Linked DNA regions of Homo sapiens: region 2 is reported to be linked to region 1. The links are microRNA targets in miRTarBase. Many come from high-throughput screens and were not tested one by one. Region 1 holds a microRNA gene; the other region holds the end of a gene's coding sequence.

Region 1 (4,408 bases):
CCAAACATGAAGAAATGATAAATGTTTGAGGTGATGTTTATCCTAATTACTCTGATTTGATCATTACACTTCATATACATTTATCAAAATATCACTCTGCAGATTATAAATACATACAATTAATATGTGTAAACTAAAATGCAAAGGAAGAAAAACCCAACAAAGCAATTTCTCCACACGTTACCTAATCCACAACAAATGGCTTCTGAAGTTTACCTCAAGTAAAGGCCATAAATATGACTCTTTAAGGTAGAAATCTTAGAAGTAAGAGTTACTTAGCTTAATGCCCTCTAGGTTTATCCATATGTATTTCATTGTAGTGTTAGTAGCAATAAAGTATAGAAACGACCTAATTGCTCATTGAATGGTGACTGATAGTGTTACATATACAGCCATGCACTGTGTATTGCATCAGTCAACAAAAAACCACATATATAAATGTGGTCCAATAAGATTACGATACTGTGTTTTTAGTGTAATTTTTCTTTGTTTTGGTATGTTTAGATGTACGGATGCTATTGTGTTACAATTGCCTATAGCATTCAGTATAATAATAAGCTATACAGAGTTGTAGCCTAGGAGATACAGTCTATGTCATATTGTCTAAGTGTGTAGTACGTTACACTGCTGTGGGACAGGCAAGGCCCCAAACTGGGGCTTAGCCAGGGAGGATTTCTTGCTTAACCCCGGAAAAAATTCAAGGATGAGCTAGGAGTCTTAGCAATCGTTTATTGAATGGTACTGCTCCTTGCAGAGCAGGGCTAAATCATAGGCAGTGCAATCAGAGTCAGCAACATATGGTCTCTTGGCAACGGTATTTATACTCAGCGAGACCCACATTCAATTGCATGCAAATTGAGGGGTGAGCCAATGCAAATTGAGGGGCAGGTTGTTTAGAACTTTCTAAGGCAGGTCAAATGCATGCAAATTGAGGGGTGAGCCAATGCAAATTGAGGGGCAGGTTGTTTAGAACTTTCTAAGGCAGGGGCAGTAACTTTTAGGTTGTTGCCATGGAAAGAGGTGGTAACTTCTGGGTTGTGTTGCCAGGCTGCTCATATTGCTCATTAGCATAAGACACTACCACCAGCACCATGACAATTAAATTGCAATGAGTAGTTAGAGATTGCTTTTGTTGACATCTGCCACTTCCTATCAGTTTCTTCACTTCATGCTCTCTGGCCAGATCCTGTTTTGGTTAGCAGGGTTGTGACCAAAAAAAAGTCCTGCTGAAAGATGAATGGATAGTGTTATATATACAGCCATGCACTGTGTACCCAAACTACAGAGTGCATGGCTGTATATATAACAGCATCCACTCAATACCATCTAGGTTTGGATAAGGACACTCCATGATGTTCAAACAATGATAAAATTGCCTTAAGGTACATTTCCCTGTTAAGCAATGCATGACTGTGTGTGTGTATATATGTATATGACCATGAAATATTATTCAGCCTTAAAATAGAAGGGGATTCTGCCATATGAGGCAACATGAAAGAAATAAGTTCTATTGTTGGGGGTGAATAGCCATGAGAGTGGAGAAGGCCATCAGTTAATCCATGGTTTGTGGCATTGGCCAAGCATGACAAGCAGTGAAACCATATTCAAATATGGAATCAACTTTTCTGACGATGACAACAAACAACTGTTGGCTTTACTATACAAGTCAGAGGCAATTGTAAGGCTCTTTGTTGTTTAATGCCCCACAGGTAAAACTTTTCTGTCCAGGGAATATTCTAGAGCAATACTGTGCAAGAGACCATTGTGTGATAACACGTGTTCTACCCTTGCATAGTCCAATATAGTAGCCTGTAGCCACATGTGCCTTTGAGTATTTCAAATACAGCTAACACAATGGAGGGACTGACTTTTTAATTATTTTAATGTTTAGTTAATTAAACATTAAAATTAACTTTAAATAGCCAAGTGTAGCTCCAAGAAACATCTGGAGCTACCAGGAACTGGAAGAGATAAGAAAGAATTGTCTCCTAGAATCCTGGATTAAATGCAATCCTGCCGACACCCGAGTTTGAACTGGCTTCTAGAACTGGGGGAGAATACATTTCTGTTCTTTTAGCCATTTGTTTTATGCTAATCTGTTATGGCAGCCTGAGGAAACTAAAACAGATGGCTTCGGGGAGAAATTTGAAACAGAAGCAAGAAGTAAAAACAGTAAGAAACAAACAAGTATGTATTCATCACAGAGGTACAGAAATTAACCATCAAATATCCCAGGCCCTAGGGGAGGAAGTGCCACGGTGGCAGCAGCGCTATCTCATCAGACTGTTCCTGTGGGGGGATTTTACTGCCATTCTGGAACCTGGTTTCCATGGGGCTGCCCTGTTCTGAGCCTGTTTCTTTAGCCTTCCAATAATTATATGATTTATCCAATATAATCTATTACCTGGTTTAGGTCAATTGGAATGGATTTCAGTCATCTACAACCAAGAACACTGACAGGTATACTAACACCTGTCAGATAGTATTGTGAATTGTGGGGAAAGTGTTCCTAAACATGACAAAACACAAGAAAGCATTAAAAAATGGTGACAGATATGAGTATTTATGAGTTAGTTAATAAACATATATGACAATTTATATGGAAAACAAAGTATGTGATGCATGATGGATTAGGAAAACATACAATATATGTAACGAAATGATATACAATGTCAATATTTATTTTTAAGAAGCAATACTAAATTACAAAATAAAATATATACAATTCTATAGGAATAGAATGCAAATTACCAATACATACATGAAAATTAGAAAACTTTTGCAATTAGAAAAATATAAATCAAAACAATAGTGTTATACTACTTTTTTCTGAAATTAAATTGCAAAATTAATATATCCAAAGATACTCAACATGATCCATATTAGACATGGATGTGTGAAGAAGGCACTCCAATCTAGGTTTTTAAGGATATAAATTTGTAAAGCCGTGTCTCAAGAATGTGTGACAATAATTCATGAGTGGCAATTTAGTATACGTTAAGCTTTGATCCAGGTAATTTAATTAAGATCTATCTACAAAGATAAACACACTTGCACACAAGTTTCTAAGGGTCAGATGGCTTACTGTACAATTTTCAGGATGTTATTGTATCATTGGTCACATCTTAATTTCTTAATTGTCCATGCCCATGGTTTTATCAGAGAAAATGAGCTAAGAACCCCAGAGACAATGGAGAGTTTGCAATGTAGTTTTTCTTTAATTTTTCATTTTAAGTTCAAGACGTCCGAAGGTGTATCTACTGGCTAGAAAAAATTGATATGTTTCCAATTACATTTCTATACATACATGGATGTGTTTGTGTGTATAGCTTTTTTGTCACAAAACCTGAGGACATACAGATAATAAATGCCTGAGAAGTATGTTGCTCTTCTTAAAATAAAACACATGATGAGTTTCCCTTTTGTTTGAGGAAAGCAGAACAGTGCTTTGCTTCGCATTGAGAATTTATGATTGCCATAAGAAAGCAGTGGTGAGCAGATAAAAGCTGTCACAAAAGAAATTTAAATTGAGCTGAAATTTTTTTTTTTGGCAACAGCTAAATTTTAAAGTTATAAGCAGAGTAACCTTGGGAAATGCCATATATATTAGTATTCTTATTTAACAATGATTGTAATTAAAAGAGCTCATTGCATTAGAAAAGAAAAATCATGCTTAAGACTCTGAAAGTTTAGAATTCCAATAAGGTAAAATAAATGTTACTTCATATTAATGTGGATACTTCATAAATTTTAAAAGTATTTCTGTCTCATCAACTAGAACTCAAAACTTATAGGGCTAAGTACACATTTTTAATTATTTTCTAGTCTAATATTTGAAAATCCACTTTCATTTAAATGATTTCATGAGCTTAATTACCCTAATATACATGGTAGAGTTACGTACATTATCCAGTTTATAGAATAGAAATAAATAAATATATGTTTATTTATTTGTACTGCTTCTGCTTTCATAAATGTAGATGTTTTTTCCTTTTCTTTTGGATAATCATAGCTCTGGTAATATACAGGTGATGTAATATATTTCTTTTTATCATATGCCTTTTTAATTTTCCAAATTAATGAACTAGGTCTAGGATTTCCTTCTACTCTTTATGCTTCTTGCATGATACCTGGCTTATGTTCTCTATTGTTCCACAATCATCGGCATCTATGTTCAACTATGCAATGATTTGTCATCATCCTTGATCTGAAATGATGGGGTATATTAAATTTAATATTTGATAACTGAAGAACATATAGTGAATATCTTTTAGTATTTTAATGAATTATGATCTTTAAAGTATTAATGTATTCTCATTATCTTATTTTTGCATAATCCATAACAACATAGAAAAAAATATCTAACAATTACCCACCATTACCCCATTTTCAAAGTGTGTTCTTCATT
Region 2 (4,408 bases), not on the chromosome of region 1:
TTCAAAGAGAATATCCTTAGTCTGTTATTTTATTAACTATTCCATTAATTTATTTGATCATATAAACTACTTGCTGTTATTCACCTTAGTTTTTAAAAATTTCTAGCTTAAGTTAATCCTTATTTTTTCCCATAAATTGCCTGTTATGTGACAGGCACTGTAGGTGTGTGAACAGAATGGTGAACAACACAAATACTTATTTCTCAATCCAGATGTTCTAAATGCATTGCTTTAAATTTTCTACCAAGTAGAGCTTTGGTTGGTGATTTCCCCCAAGTTATCTGTAGGCAACATGTGATCATTCATCACTAAATAGTCTACAATTTCAGACTTGATTTTCTTTCTTTTTTTTTTTTTTTGAGATGGAGTCTCACTCTATTGCCAGGCTGGAGTGCAGTGGTGTGATCTCAGCTCACTGCAACCTCCGCCTCCTGGGTTCAAGCGATTTTCCTGCCTCAGCCTCCCGAGTAGCTGGGACTACAGGCGTGCCACCATGTCCAGCTAATTTTTGTATTTTTAGTAGAGACAGAGTTTCACCATGTTGGCCAGGATGGTCTTGATCTCCTGGCCTCAAATGATCCACCCACCTTGGCCTCCCAAAGTACTGCGATTACAGGCATGAGCCACCACGCCTGGCCCAAACTTGATTTTCTACTTTAAAAAACTTTATTATGGAAAATTTAAAATATATGTAAAGATAGTAAGAACGGCACAATGAACCCTGTGTACCTAATGATCCAGATTAAACATTTACCAACATTTTGCTAATCTTGTTTCATCTATCCCTCCCACCTTTTGTTTTTAAGTATTTAAAAGTAAATCACAGGCATAACATTTCAGCCTTAAATACCTCAGTATGAATCTCTAACACTTAAGGACTCATACACATATACCCATAATGCCATAGTCATGCCTAACATATGAACAATAAATTATTTCGTATCATTTAGTAACCAATCCATGTTTACATTTGTACAATATGTAGAGACATTTTATTCCTTCAAATCTTGTATTGACTATGTTTTCTTTATTTTCTGTATTCCTGATGCTCTGGCCACTTGGGGCCTTGATCCTGGATAGGCTGCCCCTCCCAGGGCAAGCTAATGCATAGATGATAAACTCCACTGCAAGCATGCCTTTCATATACAAACCAACCAATCCAGAGCCCATACTCCCAACTATCTCCTTTACCAAACTCTCATACACCAATTCAATATTCCCCTGCCCTAACTAGACAATTACGAATCCCCCCTAGATCCCAGAGACCAACAAAATTACTCAAACTATTCAATCCTAAGCTTACCAGTGTGCCTACCCCTGCCTTGTCCATTCCTTCCCATGAAAACCCCCAATAAAAGCTCTGGGCCATGCTGTGCTCTCACCCTCTGCCTCCTGATACACCCAGGTGCTTCTTTACGTGACCCTGCATGCCATGCCATGCCTCCCGTTTGTGGGATCTGCGTATAAACTTCTTCCTTCATGACAATAATTTCCATGTCTGCCTGTCTCACCATGATTGATTAAAACAAATCCCAAGCGCATTTTAACACAAGGATCCTAAAATGCTCCATACACTGTATTTGAAGGATACGTTTCTTAGTCTCCTTTAAAGTGTAGGATTCCATTTTTGTCTTTTTTTTTTTTTTTTTTGACATGTATTGGTTAAAAAACTAGGCCATTACTTCTGCAGAATTTCCCAAATTGTGCATTTGGTTGTTTGCTTCTTTGTGTTGTTAATTTGTTCTTTTATTCCCCATGTTTCCTGTAAACTGGTAATTAGGTTTGGAGACTAACTTGTACTTCTCAGTTTTGGGGGAGCCAAGAAAACTTCACAGGTGTCCACTGTGTGTATCCATTTCATCACATCAAGTTCATCTGGCTGATCTCATTTAGAGATGTTAATATAGATTAGTGTCCTGTCATTCTGCTCCATGCATTATAAGCTTCCTATCCATTTTTCACCTAATGGTCTTCGCATCCATTGCTATCACCACGAAAATCCATGATTTTGTAAAATTAAAGAGCGTAGTTTTCAAATTCTATCATTCATTTGATCTTTGTTTTGTTTTGTTTTTTGTTTTTTGTTTGAGACAGAGTCTCGGTCTGTCACCCAGGCTGGAGTGCAGTGGCGCGATCTCGGCTCACTGCAAGCTCCGCCTCCCGGGTTCAAGCCATTCTCCTGCCTCAGCCTCCTGAGTAGCTGGGACTACAGGCGCCTGCCACCACGCCCGGCGAATTTTTTGTATTTTTAGTAGAGATGGGGTTTCACCGTGTTAGCCAGGATGGTCTTGATCTCCTGACCTCACGATCCACCTGCCTCGGCCTCCCAAAGTGCTGGGATTACAGGCTTGAGCCACCGCGCCTGGCCTCCTTTGACCTTTTAACCAGTTGGAATTCTCTAATCAACAACTTTCCTTCACCAACTTTTGGTTGTCTTGAAATATAGTTTGTAAAGGATAGGCAAGGTAAATATTCCATTCTTTTCCTTTATTTGTTAATAATGCTCTAGTATGCTCCATAACTAATCAATGCATTTGGTTCAGGAAAAAAAAAAGCTCAAAGGTTGGAGTGGTCATGATAAAAGGACACAGGAGCCAATTTGAGGGGATTGCCTCAAAATGCTAAATTGACAATTTAGCATTTTTAAAAAACAATGAAGTAGTTTAAAAAATTAATGGGGCTTCATAATACAGGTGACTTTTAATTTCCAAAGTTTCATGTTATCCTTTGTCAATTTTTAATATTGACTGGGGCCAGAGAATACTGATTGTAGTTTTTTTTTTTTTTTGAGACAGGGTCTTGCAGTCACTCAAGCTGGAGTGCAGTGGTACAATCACAGCTCACTGAAGCCTCAACTCTTGGGTTCAAATGATCCTCCCACCTCAGCCTCGAGTAGCTAGGACTACAGGCATGCACCATTATGCCCAGCTAATTTTTAAAGTTTTTTGGTAGAGACAGGGTCTCACCATGTTGCCCAGGCTGGTCTCGAACTTCTGGCCTCAAGCAATCGTCCTTACTTGGCCTCCCAAAGTGCTGGATTTACAGGCATGGGCCACCTCACCTGGTCTAGGGTATCTGTTTTTTAATGAACAAACTGGAAAGGAATTCCTTACTTTCAATATTTTAACGAGAATAAGATATCTCAAGTTCAATGAAGATTAAATGTTGGTGGAAGGCATTTCTATACTCATTATGCCCACAGCCTTTAGTATGAATTATGTAAAAATAAATATTTAGTATGATAATAAAAGAAAGTTTAGTGGCTTAAAACAACAACCATTTTATTATATCTCATGTTTTTGTGGGTCAGAAATTTGGGCCAGGGGCTCAGCTGGTCAATTCTTCCATTCTACATGGCATCAGTTCAGGTTACCAAGTCGCTCACTGGCATTTAGCTGGTGGCTGGTCTGGTGGATCCAAAATTTCACTCAAATGTCTGGTATCTTGGTGGATGTCAAGAAGACAGGGTTCAGCAGGTGCCTCTCCCTCTCTACGTAGTTTCAGGGCCTCTTCATGTGGTCTCTTCAGCAAAGTAGCCAGACTTTGTAACAAGACAGTTCTGTCATTTCATGAGATGAAGTAACCCTACCAGTAAAGTCTGAGTCAAGAAACCAGCACAGCAGTACGTCTACCATATTCTACTGGGCGAAGCAGTCACAGAGGGATGTAGATTCCTGTATACAACAGAGGGATGTAGATTCCACCTCTTGATTGAAAGTGTGTCAAACTGCTGCACTCTTATATGACCATGTCATAAATTAAAAAATTATAGCACAGAGCAGTTAAGCGTCTTGTCCAGTATGACACAAAGTGATGGGATAGGGATGACGGTAAATGTCTTTTTCATTCTTATAACAGGATTAGTTTTTAGAACAAATATGCTGAAGTTTCAGGTTTGAGTGATGATGGACTACAATACATTGTCACACTCTTTTAATGGTATAAAACCTCTAATGCCAACGCAGTTGCATGTATGGAGCAAAATAGATTAATTACTACATTCATAGAATGTTCTATAACACAGAAGTTGAAAAGACTTTCTTAGATTTTTACATTATGAATTTTCAGATGATGAGTAAGGTGTGAATGTTGCCTAAAGGCCTTCTTACATTCCTTACATTCATAGGGTTTCTCACCAGAATGAATTCTCAGATGTTGAATAAGGGATGAATTAAGTCTAAAGGCCTTCCTACATTCCTTACACTCAAAGGGTTTTTCGCCAGTATGAATGCTCTGATGTAGAGTAAGTTTTTGGCGCAATCTAAAGGCCTTGCCACATTCCTTACATTTATAAGGTTTCTCACCAATATGAATACTCTGATGCTGTGTGAGTTGTGAAAGTAGTCTGAAGGCCTTCCCGCATTCCTTACAGTCATAGGGCTTAACACCAATATGAATACTCTGATGT

What was found. Region 1 holds the annotated microRNA hsa-miR-5011-3p (GUGCAUGGCUGUAUAUAUAACA, at 1,246-1,267, opposite strand). A microRNA usually pairs through its seed, bases 2 to 8, with sites in the 3' UTR of a target mRNA and lowers its output. Matches are read on the target gene's strand: a 7mer-m8 pairs with bases 2 to 8, a 7mer-A1 pairs with bases 2 to 7 and ends in A, and an 8mer does both.
Region 2: the mRNA of ZFP82 is a reported target of hsa-miR-5011-3p. Seed matches in the 3' UTR shown: 7mer-A1 at 3,966-3,972.

Annotation. Positions count from the first base shown.
Region 1 is chr18:67,078,504-67,082,911 of GRCh38, reverse strand. MIR5011 (microRNA 5011) reads right to left here and starts at 1,328; the gene lies at 1,226-1,328.
Region 2 is chr19:36,388,700-36,393,107 of GRCh38, forward strand. ZFP82 (ZFP82 zinc finger protein) reads right to left here. Exons shown (of 5, transcript NM_133466.4): 5 at 1-4,408. The coding sequence ends at 4,042. Among named protein-coding and RNA genes, the nearest start is that of ZFP14, 12 kb to the left of the region's middle.